Homo sapiens: one gene and its partners. The protein of the gene in region 1 purifies or fractionates together with the protein of each later gene. This does not show direct contact. Each region holds a gene or a part of one and is shown on either strand. Other genes may lie near its edges.

The links.
Region 2: the proteins of XRCC4 (region 1) and IFFO2 purify together in Homo sapiens (affinity purification with mass spectrometry; 4 studies listed by BioGRID and IntAct, with this or other methods). This does not show direct contact.
Region 3: the proteins of XRCC4 (region 1) and ALDH7A1 purify together in Homo sapiens (affinity purification with mass spectrometry; 3 studies listed by BioGRID and IntAct, with this or other methods). This does not show direct contact.
Region 4: the proteins of XRCC4 (region 1) and LONRF2 purify together in Homo sapiens (affinity purification with mass spectrometry; 3 studies listed by BioGRID and IntAct, with this or other methods). This does not show direct contact.

Annotation. Positions count from the first base shown.
Region 1 is NC_000005.10:83,346,539-83,353,565, forward strand, and holds part of XRCC4 (DNA repair protein XRCC4), read left to right. Parts: intron 1-6,586; coding exon of another isoform or gene 6,587-6,592; coding exon 6,593-6,704; 3' UTR 6,705-7,027.
Region 2 is NC_000001.11:18,953,665-18,960,514, reverse strand, and holds the start of IFFO2 (intermediate filament family orphan 2), read left to right. Parts: upstream 1-3,838; 5' UTR 3,839-4,182; coding exon 4,183-4,847; intron 4,848-6,850.
Region 3 is NC_000005.10:126,578,195-126,585,221, reverse strand, and holds part of ALDH7A1 (alpha-aminoadipic semialdehyde dehydrogenase isoform 1 precursor), read left to right. Parts: intron 1-1,209; coding exon 1,210-1,290; intron 1,291-2,247; coding exon 2,248-2,371; intron 2,372-7,027.
Region 4 is NC_000002.12:100,319,475-100,326,918, forward strand, and holds the start of LONRF2 (LON peptidase N-terminal domain and RING finger protein 2), read right to left. Parts: upstream 3,028-7,444; 5' UTR 2,620-3,027; coding exon 1,941-2,619; intron 1,908-1,940; exon of another isoform or gene 1,715-1,907; intron 1-1,714.

The DNA of each region.
Region 1 (7,027 bases):
ATAACATTTTTAAGATAAAAAGACACACTTGAAAACATTAGGTAAAGTAAATGTTTAACTTAAAGCTTTCTGAGAGCAGGAGTAACACTTATATTTGTTCTATTTTCCTAACACAGTGAGCTGTTCATAGTGTATAATCAACAAGTACAGTATTGATTAAATAAACAAAACTGTATGTTGAAGTATAAGATACAGATATTAGGTACTGTAAATGACCAGAGGAAATAAAAATTACAAATATGAAATGAAATAGGAACATGGAAAAAAAGTAAGTCCTTGTGGAAGGTTTAGAATTTAAACAGAGCTGTAACTAATGGCTATAATTTCATTAAGAACACCCAAGTTTCTAATTATTTGTTTCTCTCACTTTCCATTAAAACTTTAGATACAGGTTCTCTGAGTTGTTTACTTCAAATTATACCTCTAAGCGTGATTTCTTGGAGAAGGCATGTTCATGAAAAAAATATGATAAATATGCTAAGATATATGTATAAGGATACTAATTGTCTAGTTTATAAGGGCATTTAAAAATTGAACCAACCCAAACCTCTATCAGTGAACTAATAGTACATCAAAATTAAAATCAATGATGAATGTAGATCTAAATTTTTCAACATGAAAATACATCTCTAATATATTATAGAGTAAAAATATCAAGCTGCAAAACTATAAATGTGTAGAATGATCACATTTTTGTAAAAAAAAGGCTGTGAATGTACAAGTAATGCAAAATAGGATAGTAGACATTTGTATTCGTCTTTTTTCACACTGCTATAAAGACATGTCTGAGACTGGGTAATTTATAAAGAAAAGAGGTTTAATTGGCTCACAGTTCTGTAGGGTGTGCAGGCTTATGCTGCTGGGGAGGCCTCAGGAAACTTACAATCATGGTGGAAGGCAAAAGGGAAGCAGACACATCTTCACATGACTGGCAGGAGAGAGAGAGCAAAAGGGGAAGTGCTACACACTTTTAAACAATGAGATCTCATGAGAACTCACACACTATCGTGAGAACAGCAAGGGGGATGTCTGCCCCCATGATCCAGTCACTTCCCACCAGGCCACTCCTCCAACATTGGGGATTACACTTCAACATGAGATTTGGGTGCAGACACAAAGCCAAACCATATCATGCCATCCCTGGCCCCTCCCACATCCCCTTCTCACATTTCAAAACATGATCATGCATTGCCAAGAGTCCCCCAAAATCTTAACTCATTCCAGTGTTAACTCAAAAGTTCAAGTCCAAGGTCTCATGTGAGACAAGGCAAGTCTCTTCGACCTACGAGCCTATAAAATCAAAACCAAGCTAGTTTCTTCCAAGATACAATGGGATTACAAGCATTGGGTAAGTTCTCCTATTCTAAGTGAGAGAAATTGGCTAAAACAAAGGGGCTACAGGCCCCATGCAAGTCCGAAAACCAGCATGGCAGTCATTAAATCTAAAAGCTCCCAGATAATCTCCTTTGACTCCATGTCTCACATCCAGGGCACAGTGATGCAAGGGGTAGACTCCTAAGTCCTTGGGAAACTCTGCCCCTGTGGCTCTCCAGGGTACAGCCCCCATGGCTGCTTTCATAGGCTGGTATTGAGTGCCTGCAGCTTTTCCAGATGCATGGCGCAAGCTGATGATGGATCTGCCATTCTGTGGTCTGGAGGATGGTGGCTGTCTTCTCACAGTTCCATTAGGCAGTGTCCCTTTGAGGGCTCCAACCACACATTTTCTTTCTATCCACACTGCCCTAGTAGAGGTTCTCCAAGAGGACTCTACCCCTGCAGCAGACTTCTGCCTGGACATCCATGCATTTCCATACATCCACTGAAACCTAGGTGGAGGTTCTCAAGCCTCAGCTCTTGCACTCTGCACATCTGCAGGCTTAACACCACATGGAAGACACCAAGGCTTGAGGCTTGCACCCTCTGAAGCAATGGCCCAAGCTGCATGTTGGCCCCTTTTAGCCACAGCTGGAGCGGGAGCAGCCACAATGCAGGGTGCCATGTCCCAAGACTGCACAGTGTAGCAGGGCCCTTGGGCTGGCCCACAAAACCATTCTGCCCTCCTAGGCCTCCTGGCCTGTGATGGGAGGGGCTGCCATGAAGATCTCTGAAATGCCTTGGAGGCACTGTCTTGATTATTAACATTTGGCTCCTGTTTACTTGCGCAAATTTCTGCAGCCTTGAATTCCTCCCCAGAAAATGGGTTTTTCTTTTCTACCATATGGCTAGGCTGCAAAATTTTCAAACTTTAATATTCTGCTTTCCTTTTAAATATAAGTTCCAATTTCAGGTCATTTCTTTGTTCATACAGATGAGAGTAGGCTTTTAGAAGCAGCAGGCCACACCTTGAATGCTTTGCTGCTTAGAAATTTCTTCCACCAGAAAAGCATAGCAAGAGTGACCTCTACTCCAGTTCCCAATAACTTCCTTATCTCCATCTGAGACCACCTCAGCCTGGACTTTATTGTCCATATCACCATCAGCATTTTGGTCACAACAATTTAACAAGTCTCTAGGAAGTTCCAAACTTTCCCTCATCTTCCTATCTTCTTCCAACCCCTCCAAACTGTTCCAACCTCTACTTATTACCCAGTTCCAAAGTTGCTTCTATATTTTCAGATACCTTTATAGCAATGCCCCACTTCTCTGGTTACACACATACTATCACAAGAATAGCAAGGGAGAAGTCCACCCCCGTGATCCAATCACCTCCCAACAGGCCCCTCCTCCAACATTGAGGATTACAGTTCAAAAAGAGATTCAGGTGGGGACACAAAGCCAAACCATATCAACATTTTTGTGTTCTTTTTTATGCTTTTCAGAATTTACAAAAAGTCTAACAATAAACATTTACTACCTGTAAAAATAATAAAACTTTTTTAAGAGTTGTGGAGAGAGTTCTAAATTTACTCTATTGACTTGCCATAGATATAAAAGCTCAATGATCTCCATTCGGGACAACTTTTACTGAGTACCTGTTATGACTAGGCACTATGAACAGGGGTCAAAATCTATTTCTTAAGCCCCTCATGACATCAGAAGGAAATGTAAATTATAAGTGGAGCACCAGGAATCTATTTATCCTTCAGTCTGGTCACTTCAGAGTGGTCCTTTGGTCATATGCTGATTTTTTTAAAACAAAATTGATAGATCTCTGTGTTCTGGTTCACAGTATCTAAACAATGGACACAATTACAGAGATCTTTCCATGTCTGACTTTTTAAATATGATTTCAGCTTTTATTTTAGATACAGGGGGTACATGTGCGGGTTTGTTACAGGGGTGTATTGCATGATACTGAGGTTTAGGATAGGGATCTCATCACCCAAGTATTGAGCATAGTACCCAATAGGTAGTTTTTCAACCCATGACCCCTCCTTCCCTTCCCCATGTAGTAATCCCCAGTGTCTATTGTTTCCATCTTTATGTCCATGTATACCCAATGTTTAGCTCTCACTTATAAGTGAGAACACAGGTATTTGGTGTTCTGTTCCTGCATTAATTTGCTCTGAATTATGGCCTCCAGCTGCATCCATGTTGCTGCAAAGGACATTATTTCATTCTTTTTGGTGGCTGTGTAGTATTCCATAGTGTATATGTAATATATTTTCTTTACCCAGTCCACCAATTATGGCCACCTAGGTTGATTCCATGTCTTTGCTGTTGTGAATAGTGCTGCAATGAACATGCCAGTGCATGTGTCTTTTTGGCAGAACACTTTGGGTTTTTTGGGAGGTATATGCCCAGTAACGGGATTGCTGGATTGGATGATAGTTATGTTTTAAGTCCTTTGACAAATCTCCAAACTACTTTCCACTGTGGCTGAAGTCATTTACATTCCCACCAACAATGTATAAGTGTCCCCTTTTCTCTGCAGCCTCTCCAGCATATATTATTATTTGACTTTTTAATAACAGGCATTCTGATTGGTGTTAGATGGTATCTCATTGTGGCTTTGATTTGCATTTCTCTGATGACTAGTGATGTGTAGCATTTTTTTTTCATATGTTTGTTGGTTGCTTGTGTGTCTTCTCTTGAGAAGTGTCTGTTCATGTCCTTTGCCCATTTATTAATGGGGTGATTTGCTTTTTGCTTGTTGATTTAAGTTCCATATAGATTCTGGATATTAGACTTTTGACAGATGCATATTTTGAGGATATTTTCTCCTATTCTGTAAGCTGACTCTTTACTTTGTTGATAGTTTCTTTTGCTGTGTAGAAACTCTTCAGTTTAATTAGGTCCCTCTTGTCAATTTTTGTTTTTGTTGCAGTTGCTTTTGGGGACTTGGCCAAAAATTCTTTGCCAAGGACAGTGTTGAGAAGGGTATTTCCTAGGTTTTCTTCTAAGTTTTTTATAGTTTGAAATCTTACATTTAAATTTTTAAGCCATCTTGAGTTAATGTTTGTATATGTTGAAAGGTAGGGCAATATGGTTTGGATTGGTGTCCCCACCCAAATCTCATGTCTAATTGTAATCCTCAATCTTGAAGAAGGGGCCTGGTGGGAGGTTATTGGATCCTGGAGACAGATTTCCCCCTTGCCATTCTCATGATAGTGAGTGAGTTCTCATGAGATCTGGTTTAAAAATGTGTGGCATCTTACCCCCCGCTTCCTCCTTCTCCGGCCATGTAAGACGGGCCTGCTTCCCTTTCACCTTCTACCGTGAGGCTTCTCAGCCATGTTTCCTGTACAGCCTGTGGAACTGTGAGCCAATTAAACCTCTTTTCTTTATAAATTACCCAGTCTCAGGTAGTTCTTTATAGCAATACAAGAATGGACTAATACATAGGGGCACAGTTTCAATCTTCTGCAAATGGCTAGCCAGTTTTCCATGCACCATTTATTGTATTCACCTTGCTTGTTTTTCCATTTCTTACTTTTAATTGAGATAGTTCAGTTATCTCTTTTGTCTAGGAGGAGCACAAGCAACTCTAAGACATTTTGGCCAGAGAAAAATGTTTAACGTGTTTTGAGTTGACAATGAAAATGTATATATATAATAATTATACTTTTATCCCATACTATATCATTTTCTCCTCCTTTGGAATATATTTTTAGATATTTAATTCCATGTTACAATAATTATGCCTGTATTTATTGTTAATTTTAACATCGCAAATCCCAGAGGGTAGTACTTGTCATCTTGAATGCATTAATGCCTAGCACCTTGGCACTCCTGTGATGATGTTGTCTGAAATTGGCTTGCTCAGAATAAGACAGAACATGTCCCAGGTCTAGTGGCAGCCAACTGTAGTTAATTGTCTCTAATCAAGATGCCAAGGAGAACTCATTTCTAATAATCTGTGCAACTAGGTAAGGGTGCAGGCTTTTAAAAATACTCATCACCTAAACACACTTGATATTTGGGGGTTTTCATTGGTTATTCTTCTCTGCTGTTAACGAAACTCTTACATAGTTTATGGGGTATTAGCAGGTAATAATAATAGTTTCCAAATTCTTTGTGGGAATTTACAAGCATTTACATTTACATCAACTCATTTCATCTTTAGACCACCTCTAGACAAATACTAATATCTCAGTTTTACAGTGGACAGAATAGAAGCCCACTTAGTTTAAATGACTTGCCTAAAGTTACATAGCTAACATGAAATAGACCTGGGTTCAAACTTGTGTTTCCTGACTTCAAGTCCCATGCTTTCTCAGCTATACCAAGGTGTTGTGACTCTACCCCCGCCTTTGAACTTGGAAATAGAGGGGTATTACCAAGTATTACTGGGTTAGCTCAACCTAATCATAATTGCCCCAGAGGCCACCTCTAATTGATAATATTAAGCATACTTTATTAAGGTTCCATAGAGAACCACTGACAAGGTTTCTACAAGGATATTAACACACACTCCACAGCTTTACTTCTGATTGAGCTCTGTTATTCTCTGGCACAGTCTTCCTAAGACCAATTAATAGTGATCATGGCAGTCAGCCTGTTATCTTAGGATTCAAAGAAAATATCTACATAAATATAGCAGTCAATCCATTGAAGTAGTGACTACAATACTGAACCTGAATAAAATTTAGTTTACTAAATGAAGATATGCAGATTCAATAAATGATTATGGACCAACATTTCATCAGCAACTGCTATAAATGTGAAAAATCATTATTTTTCATATATACACATGATCATCAGACCCACTAAAGGTAATTCATGTGACCAAAACTTTCTGCTGCTAAGAGATTAAAATGCATGTTAATCAGTAGAATTTAAGAAAGCCAGAGTAAAATGTAAATTGTGATGAAATCATTAAAGGAGTAACTTGAAAAACCTTCTATATCCTGGCATAAAAGTGATTATAGCACAGAGGACAGAATATTTTATTTCTTGACCTTGATTATGAGTATTGTTATAGGTTCTTGAATTTTCCTTAGGTCAGAATAGAGACATTAATTCTAAAGCAGTTAGAGAAATTAGTCTCTTTATCTCTTTCCTTATAGTTAATAGCATAGAGAAATAAATCTCTAAACCAATTTGAAACAGGATTTAACTGTCATTTCACTTATGTGTCTCTTCATTTTCTTTTACTCTATAACAGAAGTTTTTAAAAATAAAACTATTTTGATTTTCTTTTCAGTTCTAGGCCTGATTCTTCACTACCTGAGACGTCTAAAAAGGAGCACATCTCAGCTGAAAACATGTCTTTAGAAACTCTGAGAAACAGCAGCCCAGAAGACCTCTTTGATGAGATTTAACAGTCTCAAAAAATACTTTGATGTTCACTAGACTATGTTTTCTATTCATTTCTTTAAAATGAAAAAGGAGAATTTCAAGTCAGCAGCCGCTATTACCGTATCTTACAATTTAATTACATACACAGTGAATTGAAACCATTGTGCAAAATGGATTACACATGTATACAAAGATACGATTTGATGATGACACTGGCACATTATTCTAAACTATTCATTCAGCATGCCTATAATTACATAAATTGTATGAGACTTTTTGTTGCAAAGGACACATTTATCATATTCATTCACACATATTATATGTGATAGCTGTCCAACATCCTGTC
Region 2 (6,850 bases), on another chromosome or scaffold:
TTGAGGCTGGGACCTGAAGGATGAGGAGTTGTTAGCAGGTGAAATGGCTGGGGAGTGGGGCAGGAAGAATAAAAGTCATTTTCTCATTCATTTCTTAATTCTTTTATTCATTCATTCAGCAACTGTTCATTGAGAGCAGTTATGCCCATTTCCCTGATGAGGAAATAGAGCCTCAGAGAGGTAAAGTGACTTAGATACAAACCTTAGCCAATCTCTTGTCTTAAAAGCCCACCTTTTTCCACTCCCCACTCTTGCCTCCAAAAACAGTCTGGACAGGTTAGACACACCGCTGTGACTTTGAGGGTCAAGGGGAGGTACCCTGCCAAAAAACAAAAACCTAATTATCCTTGTTTAGTGAGAGGAGGCTGGCGTCCCCCACAGGGATGTTCCTTTGTCTGTTGGAACTCTTCCGCTGCCTTGAGGACCCACCTTTAGCCCCCTTTGGATCTTGAATGGGGGAGCCAGCCTGCCAGTGTCTGGGGTTAAGGGGAGGAGACCACTGAATTCATTGTCTGGGCCAGGGAGGACCTACCATTGGAAAGGGAATGGGACCAGAATTCCAGACCAGGCTTTGATACCAATTATTCAGGAGACCTGGGTCAGTCCTTACCTCTCTGTGGTCCTCAGTTTTCTGGTCCCTGAAACAAGAAATCTGGGCTGGCTGTATCCTGAACTATAGGACTTCTGGCCTCAGATGCCTCCAGATTGATATGGGCTGGAAGTAGGGTGACACATTTGTTCTGATTTGCTCGTTCTGATTTACTTTCCAGGTTTTAGCATCAAGAGAAACCTTCTCAGTTCCTGATAAATTGGGATGGTTGGTCACCCTAGCTGGAGGACTGTTAGGTTAACCTAACCTCACATTTTACCCACAAAGAGCAAGACACGCAGCACCCGCCTTTATTCCTATGTGGCCACGAAGCTATTTTCAAGCCATTTTGTTTGCACATATCATGTTTCTAGGGTTCAGCTGAAAACCCTCTCAGGTCCAGCTACCACTTCCCTCAATTCCTTCAGATCTTCTGGGCTCTGCTTGGCCATCTCCTTTTCCCCCCTCTGCACCCACTCCCATGCCTCAGGATGGTCTTTTTTGGTTGTCTCCATCAGCTCCCCTGGAGCCCCTTTAGCTCCTTCCTCTGCATTTAATGCAGGATTTGTGCCGAAGCAGGTGCTCCACAAGTCATCACGGAAAGTCTGAATATCTCCAGGGCCCAGGGCAGGGCTGCCCCCACCCTCAAGGAGGGCTGCACACCCCAATTCCAGGGCAACTTTGTTGGAAGGACAGATCCTTCCTGGAAGAGGTTGCAGGGAGCCACTCCCCAGGTGTGACTTCTTAACCCTTTCTCTTCCATGGGACCACTCAGGCATTGGGTGGAGCCTGTGGACCCCTTCTGAGAATAATTTTTTTAAAAAGGCATTAGGATTACTATGAAAAGTCATTTTACTAAAAATAGATATCAAACTATTAACAATTTCTCATATAGTAACATACGTTCTCTTTTACTAATACATTAAATAAGATTTAGTGGTCGGTCTAATATGACTTTAATTTCACAGTTCTCGTAGCTTAGATGATATCTTGAGATGTTTACAATAACTGTAGTGTGTTACATAAATACCTGTGATTTCTACTAGTGACAAAATCACAGGGACATCTACTTGCTGCCTACATTCATAATCAAAGGATATGTTAAAAACCATTGGCTGGGCACGGTGGCTTACGTCTGTAATCCCAGAACTTCGGGAGGTCAAGGTGGGCGGATCACCTGAGGTTGGGGGTTCAAGACCAGCCTGACCAACATAGAGAAACCCCCATCTCTACTAAGAATACAAAAAAATTAGCCGGGTGTGGTGGCGCATGCCTGTAATCCCAGCTACTTGGGAGGCTGAGGCAGGATAATCTCTTGAACCCCGGAGGTGGAGGTTGTGATGAGCCAAGATCGCACCATTGCACTCTAGCCTGGGCAACAAGAGTGAAACTCTGTTTCAAACAAACAAATAAACAAACAGACAACAAAGCCTTTAGAGATTAGTGAGGCTAAAGGTATAACTTTTGTCCACCCCTGTGTCATGGACCCCCCAGAATTCTATCCTCAGTCCTCTTGGGGGTCCATGAACCTCTGCTTCAAGGCAAAGGGGTTTTGATTCCTTAGGTTAGATAAACAAGAACATCATCAAGAGACGAGAGAACGAAGAGTAAAGGGCAGTGTCCAGACTGGGTTGGGTTAAGCAGAGAAAGGTTTCTAGATGAGTGAGTTTCAGAGCTGGGTGTTTAAGGTGAGTCCGTGTTGGCAGGAAGCAAGGAACTGTGGTTGAGGGAAGGAACTATGGGGAAGGTTTGCTTTTGTGGCTAAATCAAAAACACAGCAGACTAACATCACAGCCACATCACTCCAGGGCAAGCCCGTGTCTCCTTTGTCACCAAGAACACCAAGGCATTGTCCATGTAAGACAGTGTGCCTGTCCTCAAGCTTACATACAAAGAGACAAAACAAACACAAAAGTTAATAACAAGACAAAAATTAAACTGCTAGTAAAAAATGCAGTCGGAAGTATCTGAAACATGCCACATATCTGGTTAAGTGCATACAATGCAAGCCACAGGCGTTCAAAGGTGGGGGTTCAAGGTGGGGGTCACCTCCCCTCTGAGGTTTGCGGTGAGGACCAAATGCGGAAATGGACACGAGGCCCGAGGCCAGCATTGTGGAAGGCCGGTTAGAGCATGCACTTTGGACCATTGTGGCTACTTAACGTCTCAGTGACCTTCTCTGTAAAATGGGGATAATAAATAAGTATGGCGCCTGACATATACTAATGTTTGCAACACGGTTCAGGAGACACCAGAGACTGGAGAACTTGGCCTTTAACGTGGTAGGTGTGAAAACATTTGAATGAATGAATGAATGAATGAATGGGTCCTCGGGTTGCCTCGGTCTGCCCCAGGCGGCCCGCTAAGCCCCATGTCTGTGAAATGAATCCCCAGCTCTCGGGGTCAGCTTCATCTCAGCGTGTGGGTGTGGGTGGTGGGGAGGTGCTGAGCAGCTCAGCAGAGGCGAGGCCCAGGCCGAGTTTGTGGGTGTCATCCCGGGAGGGTCTTGCTCGGCCTCCCCAACCCCCATGCTGCTCGGCTCCTCAGTGGGCGGGGGAACCAGCGGGCTTAGCTGTGCCCGGGCCGATCTCGAGAGGACAAGGCCCGCAGCTAGCATTCGAGGAGCCCACCCCCGGGTCCGCAGCGTGGGGCACGGGCGCCCTCTTATCCCCGAAAGGTCGATCTGGGCCTCCCCAGGCTAGAGTGGGGGTGGGGTGCCGATGCACCTTCGGATACTGTGGTCCCCCAGCCCTTCCAGCCGCGGTCGCGCACATCCGAAGGAATTTGGGGCCAGGGGCATTGCGGGCAGAGAGGACAGAGAAACGGAGCCCTCTCGGCAGGCGACGTGGGAGAGGAGCGCCCTAAAAAGTGGAAAGCGAGCGTTGCCGAGGCTGCTGGCCCCTTTAAGAGGCCCGGCTGGCTCTGCGGCGGTTCCAGCTAACCCGGTCCCTGGTGCAGCTCTGCGGTCCGGGTCCCCCAGCAGAGAATCGGCACCCGGCGGGGAGGCAGGACCAGACGCAGGAGAGGGCGTGGCCCCGCCGGGGAGCTGGGCGGAGTCTATGCTGCGGAGAAAGCGGGAGAACCCGGAGGTGGGCGGAGCCGAGGGTCTGTGGGTGGGGCCCGGCGCTGCGGGCCTCGTGGGGCGGAGCCTCGGGCTCGGGGAACGCCGCAGAGGGAGGAGGGGTGGGCGGGGCCGCGGCGGGGGCGGGGCCAGTGTCTGCAGTGGGCGGGGCCCGCCGCAGAAGGGGCAGTGCCGGCCGAGAGTCCTCTGCGTGCGGCTGCCGCGGCCCCTCCACAGCGTCTCTGACAGCCCGGGCGGTGAGACCCGCGACCCTTCTGGCCCCGCGCAGATACCGCGGCCTCCACCGCGTCCCGAGGAGCGGCCGAGTGCCCTCTCTCGCCTCGGCGCCCGCATCCGGGGCCATCCGTCCTGCCGTCTCTGCGGAGGCCGCATCTGGCGCGCATCTGGAACCGCCCGGCCGGCCGCGCTGGAGCCCGCGCCCACCCTGGCCCGGCCGCGCCGGGAGCCCTGCCCGGAGCTGGAGCCGCACCTGGAGCCGCGGGCCCGGGGCCCTGAGCCGCGCAGCCGGCGCATGGTGAACTCGCTGCTGTTCGGGGAGATGGCCTTGGCCTTCGGCTGCCCGCCGGGCGGCGGCGGCGGGGGCTGCCCTGGCGGGGGCGGCGGCGGCGGCGGGGCAGGGCCGGGTCCGTCGCCGGTGACGGCGGCGCTGCGGGACGACCTGGGCTCCAACATCCACCTCTTGAAGGGGCTCAACGTGCGCTTCCGCTGCTTCCTGGCTAAGGTGCACGAGCTGGAGCGGCGCAACCGGCTGCTGGAGAAGCAGCTGGAGCAGCAGCAGAGCGAGCGCGAGCGGCGGCTGCGCTACAAGACCTTCTCCCGCGAGCAGGCCGTGCAGACCGGGCCCGAGTTGCTGCGGCCCCCGGCGCCCGGCGGCGGGCACGGCCTCAGCAGTGGCGCGGCGGCCGGCGCCAACGCCAATGCCGTGGCCCTGGGCGGCCTGCCCCCCGGCGGCGGCTCGCACCCGCAGCACTACGGCCGCCTGCCCGGGACCATCTGGAGCTACACGCAGGTGCGGCGCACGGGCGGCGGCGGCGTGGAGACCGTGCAGGGCCCCGGCGTGTCGTGGGTGCACCCCGACGGCGTGGGCGTGCAGATCGACACCATCACGCCGGAGATCCGCGCGCTCTACAACGTGCTGGCCAAGGTGAAGCGCGAGCGCGACGAGTATAAGCGGAGGTGAGTGGCCGCCCCTCCCCCGCCGCCCTGGGACGGGGCGCCCAGGTCCAGGCTGCCGCGGAATGCGTATGCGGGACGGGGGCCGGGCGGGCAGCTGGTACTGGCAGGTGGGCTGGAAGCTGTGTTTGCAGAGCGTCTTACGTACGCCAGGAAGGCCCAGTTATCTAGATCCCAGGATGGGGGCGGGCGCTGGCTACCGTGGGGGCCACCTCGATGCTGTCACTGGTGAGGCACATTGTTTTCTAGGTGACATAATAACTGTCTGTGTTTTATGCGATCTCATTTAATTCTCAGCACAATACAGCGTATTGTGTAAGGCAGTCTTATCCTCATCTCGCAGATGAGGAAACCGAGGTGCAGAAATGCTAAGTGATTTGCCTAAGGTGGCTTGGCGAGTAAGTGGTGAAACCGGGATTTCAACCAGAGATTTTAACCACTCCTGGCTAGTCTGTCTCCTAGCATAAGTATTTTTACCAAGGAAGTAGGAAATATGCTCCCCTCCCTCAACATATGAAAAGAAAAACTCTAACCAACCCACTGCCTTTTTATTTCTTGAATTAAATGAGATCACGTTTTTGAAAATGGATGGATCTGCCCCTACCCCCTGGGGCCAGTGTCTGCCGTCTTGCTCCAGCTCTGTAAGGTCCAGCTTGCTGGGTTGGATAACCACAACTACAACAGACTGCTCACAAGCTTTTATAAAATGCCTCCTTTCATCCCTCTTCTCCCCACTCCCTGAGTCTCATGGTTTATTGAGCCCTAACAAACTCAGCCTTAAAAGCCCCCAGGAGAAGATAATGTTGGGCTGGAGACTGGACATTGAATGGACTGAGACCACAATCTCTGGCTAGAACTGGGGTCCAGACTCTGCAAGACTGGCCAGTGCATTCCTGCCTAGCCCAGATTCCCCAGCTGGGAAACTGTCATTGCTTCCTGTCTGCAGTCTGGCCGACAATACTGTCTGCTTGGCTTTCCGATAAGAGGAGAGGGGTCTCCTATCCTCCTCCTCTTCCCATAAGAGAAGAAGGGTCTGTCTTTGGCATCTCAGGCCTGGCTGGGGAAGGGGCCCTCTGGCCCTGGCAATCGCTGTTCCAGGCACAGGCAGCCTTCCATTCGGAGCTATTGGCTCTGAACTCCAGGGCTTGGAGGATGTACTGAGAAGGACCCTTCCTTCCATCTCTAAAGGTCTGTCCAGGGAGCTGGGCATAGGTCTCCTTCCGTATTCTCCCATTGGACAGGCTAGCAACTGGGTAGGATTCAAATGCCAGCCTTATACCTGCTGGTGAGATTATCAAATCACTTGAAAGCCTGTTTGCTCATCAGAGAAATGGGAATAATAAAATCTGCCCACAGTTGCTCGAGGAGACAGCAGGATGGTGATGCTCTTTGGGAGGTATAAAGTAATCATGCTGGTGTTATTAAAGATGATAGGCACTTTGTCAAGCTAGCAGGGAGTAGAAATGCTGAGAGTCCTCAAGCTCTCTCATGTGGCGCCTAGCTTCCTGGGGGTAGGTCTTACACTCCACTGGGAGACGGGCTTCTCTCCTGGGTTACCTGTTTCTCTGGAGGACTTGAGAATGGCCCGCCTGGTGCCTTGCCACAGGGAGGCCACCTCGCCGCCCCTCATGGTCAATGTCATTGGGGCAGGCTAGGGAAGCAGGCACTTGCTCTCAATGGTGAAACTGGGGAGGGATGGGCCGGGCCCTCCTGTCTGCCACTGTTGATTGTGTTGTCATGCCTCAGGCTTGTGTTGTGTTTGTTTTATTGTGTGTGTGCTTTTTGGACCTGGCTACTAAGGTGATGGAAAAACCGTGCCCAGTCTTGGAGGGAGATGGGTTGGCATTGAGCAACGATCTATTCAAGTTGCACCCAGGGCGTGGGGTGTGATGTCAGCTTCTGGCGCTGGCCTGGAATGAGACGGTGCTGCTGAGACAGGTGGAGTGCGGGCGTCTCTCTTCCCGCCCTTCTGGGATGCGTGCACACCTTGTCTTCCATTTATTTTC
Region 3 (7,027 bases), about 43 Mb from region 1:
GGTTCAAGTGATTCTCCTGCTTCAGCCTCCCAAGTAGCTGGGATTACAGGCACCTGCCACCATGCCCGGCTAATTTTTGTATTTTTAGTAAAGATGGGGTTTCACCATGTTGGCCAGGCTCGTCTTGAACTCCTGACCCCAAGTGATCCACCTGCCTCAGCTTCTCAAGTGCTGGGATTATAGACGTGAGCCACCGCGCCCAGCCTTAGCTGTACTTTGAAGGAGAGGCAGAATTGGGAAGAACTTGATGGGAGAGAGGGAGTGATGGTCACAGTTGGAGAAATTGTGTCTCATTCATAAATCACATCTCAAACTTTATGTGACATAAGCTGTGCTCTTTACCCCCAAAACCTGATGTTTCCCTTCAAGTCTTCTTCATCCCAGTAATTATACTTCATCTACCTACCTATTTAAGCCAGAGAGCGGGAAGTTATCCTGAGTTCTTTAATTCTCTTCATTTCCTGCATCTGTGTGTCCTGTCAATTCTACTCCCAAAACAGACCGTGAATCCACTTGCTGTTTCCCTTGTTACCACTGCAATCTTTTTTTTTTTTTTTTTTTTGAGATGGAGTGTCACTTTGTTGCCCAGGCTGGAGTGCAATGGCGTGATCTCAGCTCACTGCAACCTCTGCCTCCTGGGTTCAAGCGATTCTCCTGCCTCAGCCTCCTGACTAGCTGGGATTACAGGCGCACACCACCATGCCCAGCTAATTTTTGTATTTTTAGTAGAGACGGGGTTTCACCATGTTGCCCAGGCTGGTCTCGAACTCCTGACCTTGTGATCTGCCCGCCTCAGCCTCCCAAAGTGTTGGGATTACAGGTGTGAGCCACCACGCCCAGCCTCCTGCCATCCTTTTAGGTAAAGTAACTTACCCATTTCCCCTCCAATCTTGCTGTTTTTCTCTGTCTCAGCTTCCTTTTTATTTCCTTTGTCTTTAAAACCCTGATGGCAATTTGTAATTATTTGTTGGCAATTTGTAATTATTTGTTGCCTTTTCTTCTCCTCTGTGCCTTCCAGTAGATATTTGCTCCATGAATGCCTTGCTTCTTATTTTGGCTCCAGTGCCTGGCCATATCACAGTTTTGATGTGATCAAAAGTCTTCTTTGATATGATTGTAATTTGTTCTTTTACAGCACACATCCAATACTGTGTTATAAACATGAATTTATGCTTTGAATCAGACACAAAAATTGCATTCTTTTCTTAGATTCCTGCTCCAAAACGAGGAGAAATAGTAAGACAGATTGGCGATGCCTTGCGGGAGAAGATCCAAGTACTAGGAAGCTTGGTAAAGTATTTTTGTAGTATATACACAATTCTTTGAGTGGACAATAAGGCTGTCATGCTTTTCTATATATAAAATTGTGAGGTTTTTTTTTTTTGAGATGGAGTCTTGCTGTCACCCAGGCTGGAGTGCAGTGGTAAAATCTTGGCTCACTGCAGCCTCTGCCTCCCATGTTCCAGCAATTCCCCTGCCTGAGCCTCCCGAGTAGCTGGGATTACAGGCTTGTGCCACCACGGCTGGCTAATTTTTTGTATTTTTAAAGTAGACATGGGGTTTCATCATGTTGGCCAGGCTGGTCTTGAACTCCTAACCTCAGGTGATCCTGCCTGCCTCGGCCTCTCAAAGTGCTGGGATTATAGGCATGGGCCACCACACTTGGCTAGAAGAGTTTTTAAGAAAAGTAATTTATATTATATTATATTTTATTATTTATTTATTTATTTATTTATTTTTGAGATGGAGTCTTGCTCTTATTGCCCAGGCTGGAGTGCAATGGCAGGATCTTGGCTCACTGCAACCTCCCCCTCCTGGGTTCAAGCGATTCTCCTGCCTCAGCCTCCCGAGTAGCTGGGATTACAGGTGTGCACCACCATGCCCGGCTGATTTTTGTATTTTTAGTAGAGACAAAGTTTCACCATGTTGGCCAGGCTGGTCTTGAACTCCTGACCTCAGGTGATCCGCCCGCCTTGGCCTCCCAAAGTGCTGGGATTATAGGCATGAGCCACTGTGCCCGGTTGTACTTTATATATTTTAAAAATTCTTTCCTTAGAGGAAAGATTAACAAGGTAGACAGGAAAAAGTGAAGGCAATTGTTGTGTTTTAAAATTCTTTGGAAAATGAAACAGACTTTCTTCAGTTTATTACATTTACAAAACATGTTTTGCTTCCCCCTTTCTTTAATTTAATGTTTATAATGTGAATTCTGTTGGAAAAATTCTGCTTGTCGTTTTATATTTCTAGGTGTCTTTGGAGATGGGGAAAATCTTAGTGGAAGGTGTGGGTGAAGTTCAGGAGTATGTGGATATCTGTGACTATGCTGTTGGTTTATCAAGGATGATTGGAGGACCTATCTTGCCTTCTGAAAGTAAGCAATGAAATTAGTTAAGCTGAGTTTTGTACTCTGATATACAGAGCTCCAAAAAAAATAAAATACTCTGGCTATTGACTGTGCAAAAGAGAAATTTCAAGTGGCATAAATATGTGAAAATATCCTCAATCTTTCAAAGAAATGCAAATTAAAACAGATGAAAATGTTAGATCAAGAACCTTTTTGTTTTAAAGATAAAACTTAATGTTGGCAAGTCCACGGGTAAGACACTTTTAACTCATCTGTAAAACGATTTGGAAATATACCCAAAGAGCTCTAACTTTAAAGAGCCCAGTTTTAAGAATCTAAGTAAATAATCTGAAATAAGACAGAAGTTATGTTTAAAGAAGTTCATTGTGGCATCAATAAAAAACATTAGAAATGACCTAAATGTCGAATCATAAGGGGAAAAAATCTAAGCCAATTTTGGTAGACTATTAGCATGTACTAAAAATAATGTTTGTGAAGGTTGTCTTCCCCTAACCCACACTTTTACGGGAGGATTTTATTTACTTATTTTTAAATTATACTAATGTTAATTTTTTTTGAAGAAACGATAGATTCATATCAGAAAATAAGAAAGCAATAAAAGGTTGAAGGATTAAAAGTTTCCCTCCTACCCCCATGACTAAGCCATAGTACCCCATGGAAGTAGTGAATGCTTTCAATTTCTTGTGTGTCTTTTTTATATTTTGTAGGATCTTGCTGTGTTGTTCAGGCTGGTCTCAAACTTCTCTCCTCAAGTGATCCTCCCCTTCAGCCTCCCGAGTAGCTGGGATTATAGGCATGAGCCACCTTCCTAGGCCCTTGTGTATCTTTTTAGAGCACGTACAGCCAAATATGTAGCAAACTATACATTTTTTTTTTTTTGAGATGGAGTCTCGCTCTGTTGCCCAGGCTGGAGTGCAGTGGCGCGATCTTGGCTCACTGCAACCTCCACCTCCCGGGTTCAAGCGATTCTTCTGCCTCAGACTCCTGAGTAGCTGGGATTACAGGTGTGCACCATCACACCCGGCTAATTTTTGTATTTTTGGTAGAGATGGGGTTTCACCATCCTGGCCAGGCTGCTCTTGAACTCCTCACCTCATGATCCACCCACCTTGGCCTCCCAGAGTGCTGGGATTACAGGCGTGAGCCACTGTGCCCGGCCGCAAACTGTACGTTCTGTTTTATACTTTTATATTCAATAATATATCTTGGAAATTGTTTTTTTGTTTTCTTTTTTTGAGACAGGATTTTACTGTCTTGCCCAGGCCAGAATGTAGTGGCATGATCACAGTTCACTGCAGCCTCAACATCCCCGGGATCAGGTGATCCTCCTACCTCAGCTAGGACTGTAGGTGCATGCCACCATACCTGGCTATTTTTTTTTTTTTGTAGAGGTGGGGTTTTGCAGTGTTGCCCAGCTGGTCTCGAACTCCGGGGCTCAGGTGATCTGCCTGTCTCAACCTCCCAAAGTGTTAGGATTGCAGGCGTGAGCCACTGTGTCAGGCTGGAAATTGTTTTCGTATTATTCTATTAAGGGGCTTCCTTCATCTGTGTTTGCAGCTATCTATTTTGTTATAAAGAGACTATAATTTATTTAGTCAGCTTCCAAATGATGTATATGTAGGGCTGTTTTCAGTGTTTTGCTATTACAAGCTGTTCTGTAAGAACCAATCTTATACTCTGAGGTTTTAACAATGAAGATACTAAGATGACAGCAAGAGTAAGAAAAAAAAAAAAGCTGGACAAGATGGCTCACACCTGTAATCCCAGCACTTCAGGAGGCCAAGGTGGGCAGATCACCTGAGGTCGGGAGTTAGAGACCATCCTGGCCAACATGGAGAAACCCCATTTCCACTAAAAATACAAAATTAGTGAGGCATGGTGGCGCATGCCTGTAATCCCAGCTACTCGGGAGGCTGAGGCAGGAGAATCGCTTGAACCCGGGAGGCGGAGGTGGCGGTGAGCCGAGATCGTGCCATTGCACTGCAGCCTGGACAACAAGAGCGAAACTCCATCTCAAAAAAAAAAAAAAATGAGGTTAAGAGTGTAAGCAATTTGTGATGTTTGCAATGTGGATAGAGCAAAACAGGTGACTGTATGTCTGCATTGGCAATGGTGGGATAGAAGTGTATGCTAAAGTGGTAGCAGTGGTTATCTCTGTGGCAGAATTACTAGTAGTGGATTTTCTTCTATTTTTCTGCATTTTCTAAATTTCCATGATGGTTATTAGGTTACATTTATAATAAGGAAATAATATTTTTTAAAAAATCATATTTTTCTCTTTTTCTTGGAATATTGAGTAAATTCCCTACTTGTAGAAAGAGTTGGGGGAGTCTTTTTAAGTCTAATTAAGGACACTTAATGTCCTTAATTAGATATCTAGCAATGATTCCCATTATCCAATATTAATTTTATGTCATTGAACACTTTCAAGAGTTTTTTTCTAGCTAAGAAAAGTTAATAGGCCCACCGTGGTGGCTCACGCCTGTAATCCCAGCACTTTGGGAGGCAGAGGTGGGCGGATCACTTAAGGTCGGGAGTTTAAGACCAGCCTGACCAACATGGAAAAACCCCATCTCTAATAAAAATACGGATTAGCTGGGCATGGTGGCACATTCCTGTAATCCCAGCTACTCGGGAGGCTGAGGCAGGAGAATCACTTGAACCTGGGAAGCGGAGGTTGCAGTGAGCCGAGATCACGCCATTGTTCTCCAACCTGGGCAACAGAAGAAAACTCTGTCTCAACAACAACAGCAATAACAACAATACAGTCAATAAACCTCCAATTTGGGGATATGTACATGTGCAAGCAGGTAACTATTTGATTTATACCTACTATGATGCCTGCCTCACAATTAACAATTAAAATTTTTCTCAATTGCTTGCACATTTTCGTTTGTTTATTTGAGATAGGATCTGTCACCCAGGCTGGAGTGCAGTGGTGTGATTATAGCCCCTTGCAGCTTGGACCTCCTGGACTCAAGCAATCTTTCCACCTCAGCCTCCTGAGTAGCTGGGATTACAGGCACATGCCACCAAGCCCAGCTAATTTAAAAATTTTTCTTGTAGAGACGAGGTTGCACTATGTGGCCTAGGCTGGTCTAGAACTCCTTGGCTCAAATAATCCTCCTGCCTTGGCCACTCAAAGTGTTGGGATTGTAGGCATGAGCCACCACACCTAGCTTACACTTCTATTTTTTTTTTTAAAGCAGTTTACTCATTTATGTAGAGACTTTGGGGTAACTTTGGCTTTATTAATTCAATAAATGCTTATGGAGCATCTATCAGGTGCCGGGTAGTCTACTAGGTGATACTCGAGCTATAAGGCATAGTCCCTGTCCTCAAGGGATTTATAAGCTTATAAATTATACCTTAGAGTGGGAGATAAATAAACAGGTAATTATATCCAGCATAATCCAGCATGGTAAGTAATATGAGGGAGTAAACGGTAGGATGGTGGGCACATAGCTGGGATCCCCTAACCCAGCCTCATGAGTGCAGTCCAGGAAGGCCTCCAAGAGAAGGTTAGCCAAGGTAAGGTCCCAAATGGGACAAAGAGGAGAAGGAGTGGAGTGCTGGAAGTTGTTTTAAAGAAGGAAGAAGCCTGTGTGAAGGCTGAGAGGGTCTGGCTTATTTGGGAGGATTGCATTGCTTCAGCACAGCTGGAGGGTGCAGTGGTAGGGCAGATAGAGTGGAAAGAGAACCTCGGGAAGAGATTTTGTCTGACAAGGAGATTGGACTTTATTCTGAGAATAGCTACAGTAGGTATCCAAAATCCACAGGGTTATAAGCAAGGGGGTGACATCAGGGCAGAGATGGGAGGGCTGGAGAGGAGGAGGCAGGCCCTGCCAGGAAGAGGCAGGCCCTGCCAGGAAGAGGCTGTGCCAGCACTTCATCTCTAGGGATTAAGGTGCCCAGATTAAGGAGGGCCCAGGAGTGAGGTGCTGTGTCTGGTATGGTCCCTCATCCTAGCTAGCAGTGTGAGTGTGGCTAGAAAGACTGATGGCTGGGACAGCCACCTTTCCAGTTGGTCTGTGGTTTTAACTGGGATTTGTGAACCATCGTATTCGTGTGGTATGGTTCTATACTGTCCAGCTGCCTTTAATTAAAATAAACACCTTGTAGGATTATGGGTGACTTTAAAGTTTGTAAGTTTGTATTTAAAATACAATATTTTTGTTTGTTTTTTCTTTTCTTTTCTTTCTTTTTTTTTTTTTTTTTGATACAGGGTCTTACTCTGTTGTCCAGGCTGGAGTGCAGTGGTGCAATCCCAGGTCACTTCAGCCTCAATACCCTGGGCTCAAGCAGTTCTCCTCAGCCTCCCAAGTAGCTGGGACTACAGGCATATAACCAATCACACCTAACTAATTTTTAATTTTTTTTGTAGAGTCAGGGGTCTTGCCATGTTGATCCAAGTCTCAAACTGAGCTCAAGTGATTCTCCCGTCCCAGCATCCCAAAGTGCTGGACATTGTAGGCATGAGCCACTGCTCCTAGCTGATTTGTATTTTTAGTTTCTTATAGTGAATGTAAAGATTTGCGTAATTCATTTTATTTATTTATTTATTTTTTGAGGCGGAGTCTCCCTCTGTTGCCCAGGCTGGAGTGTAATGGCAGGATCTCGGCTCACTGCAACCTCTGCCTCCCGGGGTCAAGTGATTCTCCT
Region 4 (7,444 bases), on another chromosome or scaffold:
CAGATCCCTCTCATACTTCCTCACAATCACTATTCCCTTTTCATCCCCCCAAGGTAACCATTGTCCTTACTTCTAACATCCTACAGTAATTTTGTCTGTTTGGGCTTACAGATAAATAGGATCATATAGTAAAAATGCTTGAGTCTGGCTTCTTCCACTTAACATTATGTTTGTGAGATTTGTCCACATTGTAGTTTGTAACTGTAGTTGATTTATTTTCTTTCTGTATAGTATGCTATGAAAACATAATCATATATTCACCCCTTCTGCTCTTACTGGACATTTGGGTTGTGTGCACTTTTGGGGTATCTCTAACAATGACATACACTCTTGTATCTAATTGCACATTCTTTTGGGGGCACATATGCATATACCTCTTTGAAACTATTTGGCCAAGGACAGGCTTAACATCTGTAGATACTACCAAATATTTTTCAGGGGCATAATTTGCAGTCCCATTAGCAGCATATAAATATCACAGTTTTCATTTTTCTACATCTTCTCCAACATCTAAATACAGATGAAGTATTTCTGATGAAAATTTGATGTTGGAATTGGGTAGTGCAGTAAATGCAAAATATATAACGAATTTCAAAGGCTTAGTTTAAAAAAGTAAAATCTCAATTATTTTTTAAAATTGAAGGCATGTTGAAATAATATTTTGGATGTATAGGGTTAAAAATTGCTAAAATAAATTTCACCTGCTTTTTTCACCCTTTTAATGTAGCTACAAGAAAATCCCAAATTATGTGTGGCTTACACAATAGTTCTAATTGGATAGTGCTGCTCTAACACCATCAATACCTAAATTAGTAGAAAACTAAAAAATATGCCTGTTAAAGTATGGATATGTTGGTTGCAAAAACTACAGAATACTCGTTAGAAAAGCTGAGTTAAGTGCTCTATTCCAGCAGAGAATATCCCAATTTAGATACAGATATTGAACACTTGTTCAATATTTGGATCTTTTTTTTTGCAAGACAAAATTGAATGCTAGTCACTTTATAATTTGTGCCTTCTAAAAGGGAAAACCTTAATCCTAAGTTTAAAATAAAATGTGCACTGACTACAGCATGGTAGTAGATTATTTTAGTAACAAGAGATTCAACAAGTCTTCTCGGCTAGTGCTTTAAATCGTATATGCCCTATTATAAAACCGGTGAAACCAGAAAGCAAACCGTCCTCCTCACACTGCCCAAAACAACTGCCAATAGAGCGCATACTCATATGTCAAAGCCAAAACGATGACAGAAGTTTGGTCTTCCTTTCAGCTAAATAGTGTTAACAGGTGGTGGCTGGGTGAAGGCAGGAGAGTGCCTGTTGCTGGCCTTAGGCCTCAGATAAATAAGGAAATGACTGAATGAACAATTTAAAACTACACACACTAGTCAGTGTAACTATCTAGTAAGTTAAATACGCCATGACATCTAATGATGGCCTCTGAGACAGAGAGCAGGCTAGAGCCGGAGCGTTTGACGTGATTACAGCAGAGTGGAGGCGGTTCCTTCCTGGCTATATTAGCTGAAACCCAAAGCAAATCTTGCCCCAGCACAAGGCACCCCTTTCTGCGCCTGTAGTGTGTCAGCTATGTGCATTTTCCTTCAGGATGAGCAAAAATATTTCGTCATCCTCCCCGCTCCTCAACAGCGCAGAAGATGCCGAAAAGCAATTACAGGACCTTACAGAGCTGCTCCGGGGGCCGCGGGAAACTTACCAGCATCCTGGAAAAGACAAAACCAGTGGGGTGCACTTGGCCTCTCCTGGCTGCAGGGTGTGGCCGCCCCCACCTTTCACCTTCCCATCCTTAGGAAGCAAAGTGACCCCTAAGCCTAGACAAAGCTCTCGAAAGCCCAAAGCCTCGGGCCCACCGGCCAGCTCCCCACCCCGCTGCTGGGCCGGACAGGTGTAGGGGAGGCGGACCCGCCCCGCAGCCGACTCACCCAGCTCCAGGGCCTGGTCGCACCTGAGCAGCGCGGCCTCCGGCTGCTGCTGGCGCTGCAGGCTCCGCGCCTGGCCTGCCAGCCTGCGCAGCCGGCACTCGGCCGGGAAGCACTTCTCCAGCAGGCCGCTCAGCACCACGTTCACGCGCCGCACCTGCGGCCGCGCGGGCCCTGGCTCCACGCAGCGCTTGCAGACTGTGAGCCCGCAGGGCAGCGTCACCGGCTTATGCAGCAGCCGCCGGCAGCGCGGGCAGCCGAGCAGGTCGCGGGGCGCGCGGGGCTCCGGGGCCGGCCCTCCCTCGCCGGGCGCCTCGGGCTCGCCGCCCGGGTTCTCCGCGGACAGCGGCCGGTCGCGCAGGCCCACGGCGCGCACCAGGCCGCCCGCCAGCTCTTCCAGCTCCTCCGGCCGCAGCGCCCCGAGCCGCGCGGCGCCGCGGAACGCGCCCAGGGCTTCGGGGAGGCGGCCGGCGCGGGCCAGCGCGTCCCCCAGCCTCAGGCACAGGCCGCGGTCCGGCTGCGCCAGCCCGGCTAGCATGGAGCGAAAGAGCTCGGCTGCCATCTCGTAGTCGCCCGCGCGGAAGGCCTCGTCGCCCTCCTCTAAGCGCTGGGCGATCGGCTCCGCGCGGTCGCAGCCAGGACACTGGGGCGGCGGCGGCGGCGGGACCGGCTCGGGGCTCATCACCGCGGGGCTGCGACGACGCGGGTCCGGAGCGAAGGCGCGGAGCAGGGAGGATGCGCTGCTGCTGGGAACTGGCCGGCGGGAGCGCGGTCTCAGCCCTCGCCAGCAGCCACGCGCGTCTGGGGGCGGCGCGCTGCGAGCGGCTGAGACCGCGGGCGGGGGCGGGCGCCTGGCTTGGGCAGCGTCCTCAGCGCGGTGTGGGCGGCGAGCCCCGCAGGGCTGCAATCGTTCCGGGGTGGGGGCCGGGACAGGCACCGCGGGCGCAATCTGAGCCCCTGCCCACGCGCAGCGGCCTCTCAGTCCCGCCGGCTTAGGTAACCCAGGTCGCTGCGGTAACGCAGTGACCGCGCTCCAGGTCCGCGTCTCTTGCGATGCTTCCCCCACTCGCCTGAGGGCTCCTGCGCGACTGCGCGCGCGTCCTCTGCCTGCCGCCTCCCCGCAGAGGTGCCGGGGCCCTGGGAGCAGGTGGCCTTGGCCGCGGGCTGCTGGCGCGCCGGCACCGCGGCACCTGCTCTTCCCCAGAGGCCTGGCCGCCCCCACAACCTGTGGCTCCGCTTAAGCAAGAACCCAGGAAAAGTCACCAAACGCATCACGCATCTCTAGCTTCGACTTAGGAAATTGTCCTAAATGACTGGGGAGGCTGAAGTGGGCACCCAGAGGCCCCGCCTCAGCGAGCTTCTTCTCTTAACTCTAGGCTGAGGCCTTTGAGAACTCATTTTAACAGAGAACGTGGAGGGCCAAGAGAACCAGATACCAGGAGGAGGAGGGATTCGAGAAGTGGACAATTGTATTGTGCCCTTGATTAGGAAGCAGAAATAGAATTAGAAATAGAATTCTAATTAATAGAATTAGAATAGAAATAGAAAGGGTGCCCTAGTATGGAGTACTGCAGACATAAGTTGCTGGGGAGAGGGAGCTAAACGCTCCGTTGGTGTACAAGCAAGGTTTAAATTAAAATCCTCTGTGCGTATTAACCGGGTTCATAATTTCTCCTATATAGCCTATGTATTTCTCCTATGTAGCCTGCTCCCTTCTTCCTGTCGTCACAGTATCTGTTTTATCCTGTGTATTTGAATACAATAAAATGCATTACAATATTCTAGAATTCATACTACTGTTCATATTTCAAGAATAAATTTTTTTAAAAAATTGGAGAGGTTTTTCTACATCTAAAACTGCTGGCTAAAGAAAATATACAATACCTCGACCACATCTGGCTTTGGGAAAGGAGAAATGCCTCATTAAGTGAGAGAACATTTTAGACCAGTTCCTAAAAGGGAAAAAGGGGCAATTTTTGGCCAGCCCTCTAGTTCTACAATAAACAAATGCAGAGTACCCACCTCCTTTTCCATGAAGGATTTCCCCCAGCTGTCTACCTAACTTAATTGATAACAGTGTACTGTTTGGGTCTCTTTTTCATTACTGAATTATTTCAAATTCACTTTTTCAATCACTGTTTGGATTTTTATCTGCTTTCTTTATAGAATAACAATTCACTTATATTTGAGGGTCATTTATCCATCAAATTCACAACCAACAATCAGGAAGCAATGGGGAAAAAGCTTCAGAGCACAGACCATACAGTAAAGATTGTGAAACCTTATGATCTCAGATCCTATTTGTTCTTATTTTAGACAAATATCTAGCAAGAGAACAGAAAGAAGCTTGCCGGAGGTATGCCTGCTGAGAGCCAGAAGTGTTTAAAGCAAAAATGTTAGTGTGTTGTGAGGTTTATAACACATAGAAATAAAATATATCACAAATATAACACAAAGGCAGGTAGAGGAGAAATGGCAGGATACTGTTGTAAGGTTCTAATGCTATATGTGAAATGGTATAATGTCACTTTAAGAAAGACTGTAATGAGTTAAGGATGTGTCCTCTAACCCTAAAGCAACCTCCTAAATAACACAAAGAGCTATAGTTTAAAAGCCTATAGAGATGAAATGAAATTGTTAAAAAAAACTCTATTAATCCAAAAGAAGGCATAAAAAGAGAGGAAGGAAACAATTAGATAAAACAAATAGAGAACAAATAGCAAGATGGCAGGTTTAAACCCAATTATATCGGTTAATGTTCATTAAATATTGTCTAAATACCATAATTAAAAGGCAAAGATTGTCAAAAGGAAGACCCAGATATATGCTGCCTACCAAAAAAGAACTTTTAAATATGAAAATACAAATAAGGTAAAGGTAAAAGGATGGAAAAAGATGTTCTAGTTAACTCTAAGCAAAATAAATCTAGAGTGACTATATTGATAGCTGACAAAGTCTATTACATAGCCAAGAACATTGCTAGGAGAAAGGACAGCCATTTCATAATGATAAAGGTGTTAGTTGGTCAAGAGGACATAATAGTCCTAACCGCGTGTGTTCCCAATAACAGAGCTTTCAAATATTTGAAGCAAAAACTGATAGAACTGTAAGGTGAAATAGGTAAATTAATAATTATAGTTGGATATTTAAATATCCCTTTTTCACCATAAAAAGAACAAGATCATGTCCTTTGTAAGGACATGGATGGAGCTGGAAGCCGTTATCCTCAGCAAACCAACACAGGAACAGAAAACCAGATGCTGCATATTCTCACTTATGAGTGGGAACTGAACAATGAGAACACATGGACACAGGGAGGGGAACAACACACACTGGGGCCTGTCGGCGGTGGGACCGAGGAAGGGAGAGCATGAAGAAAAATAAGTAATTCATGTGGGGCTTAAAACCTAGGTGATGGTTTGATAGGTGCAGTAAACCACCATGGCACACGTTTACCTATGTAACAAACCTTCACATCCTGCACGTGTACCCCAGAACTTAAAAATAAAACACCCCTCTTTCAACAATTAATACAAGTATACTGAAAATCAGTGAGGCTATAGAAGACTTGAGCAATTCTACAAACCAACTCAATCTGATTGATGTTTATAGAACACTCCACCCAACAATAGCAGAATACACATTCTTTCCAAGTGCACATGGGACATTTACCGATATAGAACATCTTAGAGCCATAAAACAAATCCCAATTTAAAAGTATTCCTTCTAGGGCACTGATACATCAATAAATTGGATCAAATTGAGGACTTCTGCTGTTTTAAAGACACTGCTAAGACATGCTACACACTAGGAGAAAATATTTGCCGATCACATAGCTGATAAAGTACGAACCAAAAATATATAAAGAAATCCAAGAACTCAATAAGAAAATACAGAACTGGATTAAAAAGTGAGTGGAAGATTTGAACAGTCATTTCATTACAGAAGACATATTGATGGCAAATAAGATGCTCAGCATTATGAGCCACTGGGGAAATGCAAATGAAACCCCAAGCAGTTAGTACTGCACACCTAGTGGAATGTCTGTGATTAAAAAGGCTGACCATGCTGAGTGCTGGCAAATACAGGGCATATGCAGAACTCTCACACATTGTCAGTGGGAGTGTACCATGGTGCAGCCACTTTGGACTACAGTTTCTTAAAATGTTAACTGTATACTTATCATATTAACCACCCATTCCACTTCTAGGTATTTATCCAAAAGAAATAAAAGCATATGTCCATTCAAACACTTCTACATGAACCTTCATAGCAGCTTTATTTGTAACAGCCCCAAGCTAGAAATAATTCAAATGTCTTTCAACGGGTGAATGAACAAATTATGATTTCTCTACACAATTGAAAACTACTCAGAAATAAAAAGGAATGAACTATTAATGTATCAAATAACATGTATGAAATTCAAAATAATTATGCTGAGTGAAATAATACAGCAAGATAGAGTACGTATGTATAAATTATTCTATTTATACAAAAATCTTAGGCTGGGTGCGGTGGCACATGCCTGTAATCCCAGCACTTTGAGAGACCAAAGCGGGCAGATTGCTTGAGCCCAGGAGTTCGAGACCAACCTGGGCAACATGGTGAAACCCCTTCTCTACTAAAATTACAAAAAATTAGCCAGGCATGACAGCACATGCCTATAGTCTCAGCTACTCAGGAGGCTGAGGTAGGAGGATCGCCTGAACCCAGGAGGTCAAGGCTGCAGTGAGCTATGATTGCACCACTGCAGCCTGGGCGACAGGAGTGAGACCCTGCCTCAAAAAAAAAAAAAAAAAATCTTGAAAGTATGAGTGAATCTACACTAATAGAATCTACACTACACATGAGTGGTCATGTGGGGATGGGAAGAGGGATTACAAAGATCCATGAGGAAACTTTTAGGGATGATGCATACATTTGTTACCTTGATTGTGGCGATGTTCTCATGGGTGTATTTGTGTGTCAGAACTTATCACAATGTATACTTTTTTATTACAAAAACCATTTTTTATAGAGATGGGGTTTCACTGTGTTGCCCAGGCTGGTCTCGAATTCCTGAGCTCAAGCGATCCATCTGCCTTAGCCTCCCAAAGTGCTGGGATTACACACATGAACCACTGCACCTGGCCTATATACTTTAAATATATGCATCTTATTGTATTGCAATTATACCTCATTGGGGCTGCTTTTAAATATGTGTCGATTTAAAGAGAGGTACTCAAAAATTAAAATTTTAAAAAATATATAGGATGCTTCTAAAGCTATATTTCACAGAAAACTATAGCCTTAAATGCTTGTGTTAAAAAATAATAAAAACTAAAAAGCAATGTGTTAAACATCTAATTCAAAAAGTTGGGGATTAAAAACCAACAGAATAAACCCCAAAAGTAGTAAGAAGACAAAGAGAAGAAACTAGTGAATAGTTCTTATCTTGGTAAAAAGAAGATACAGATATCAACTCAAAAGGTGAGAAAAAGGAGCAAACGGGCAACAAAATGAAACAC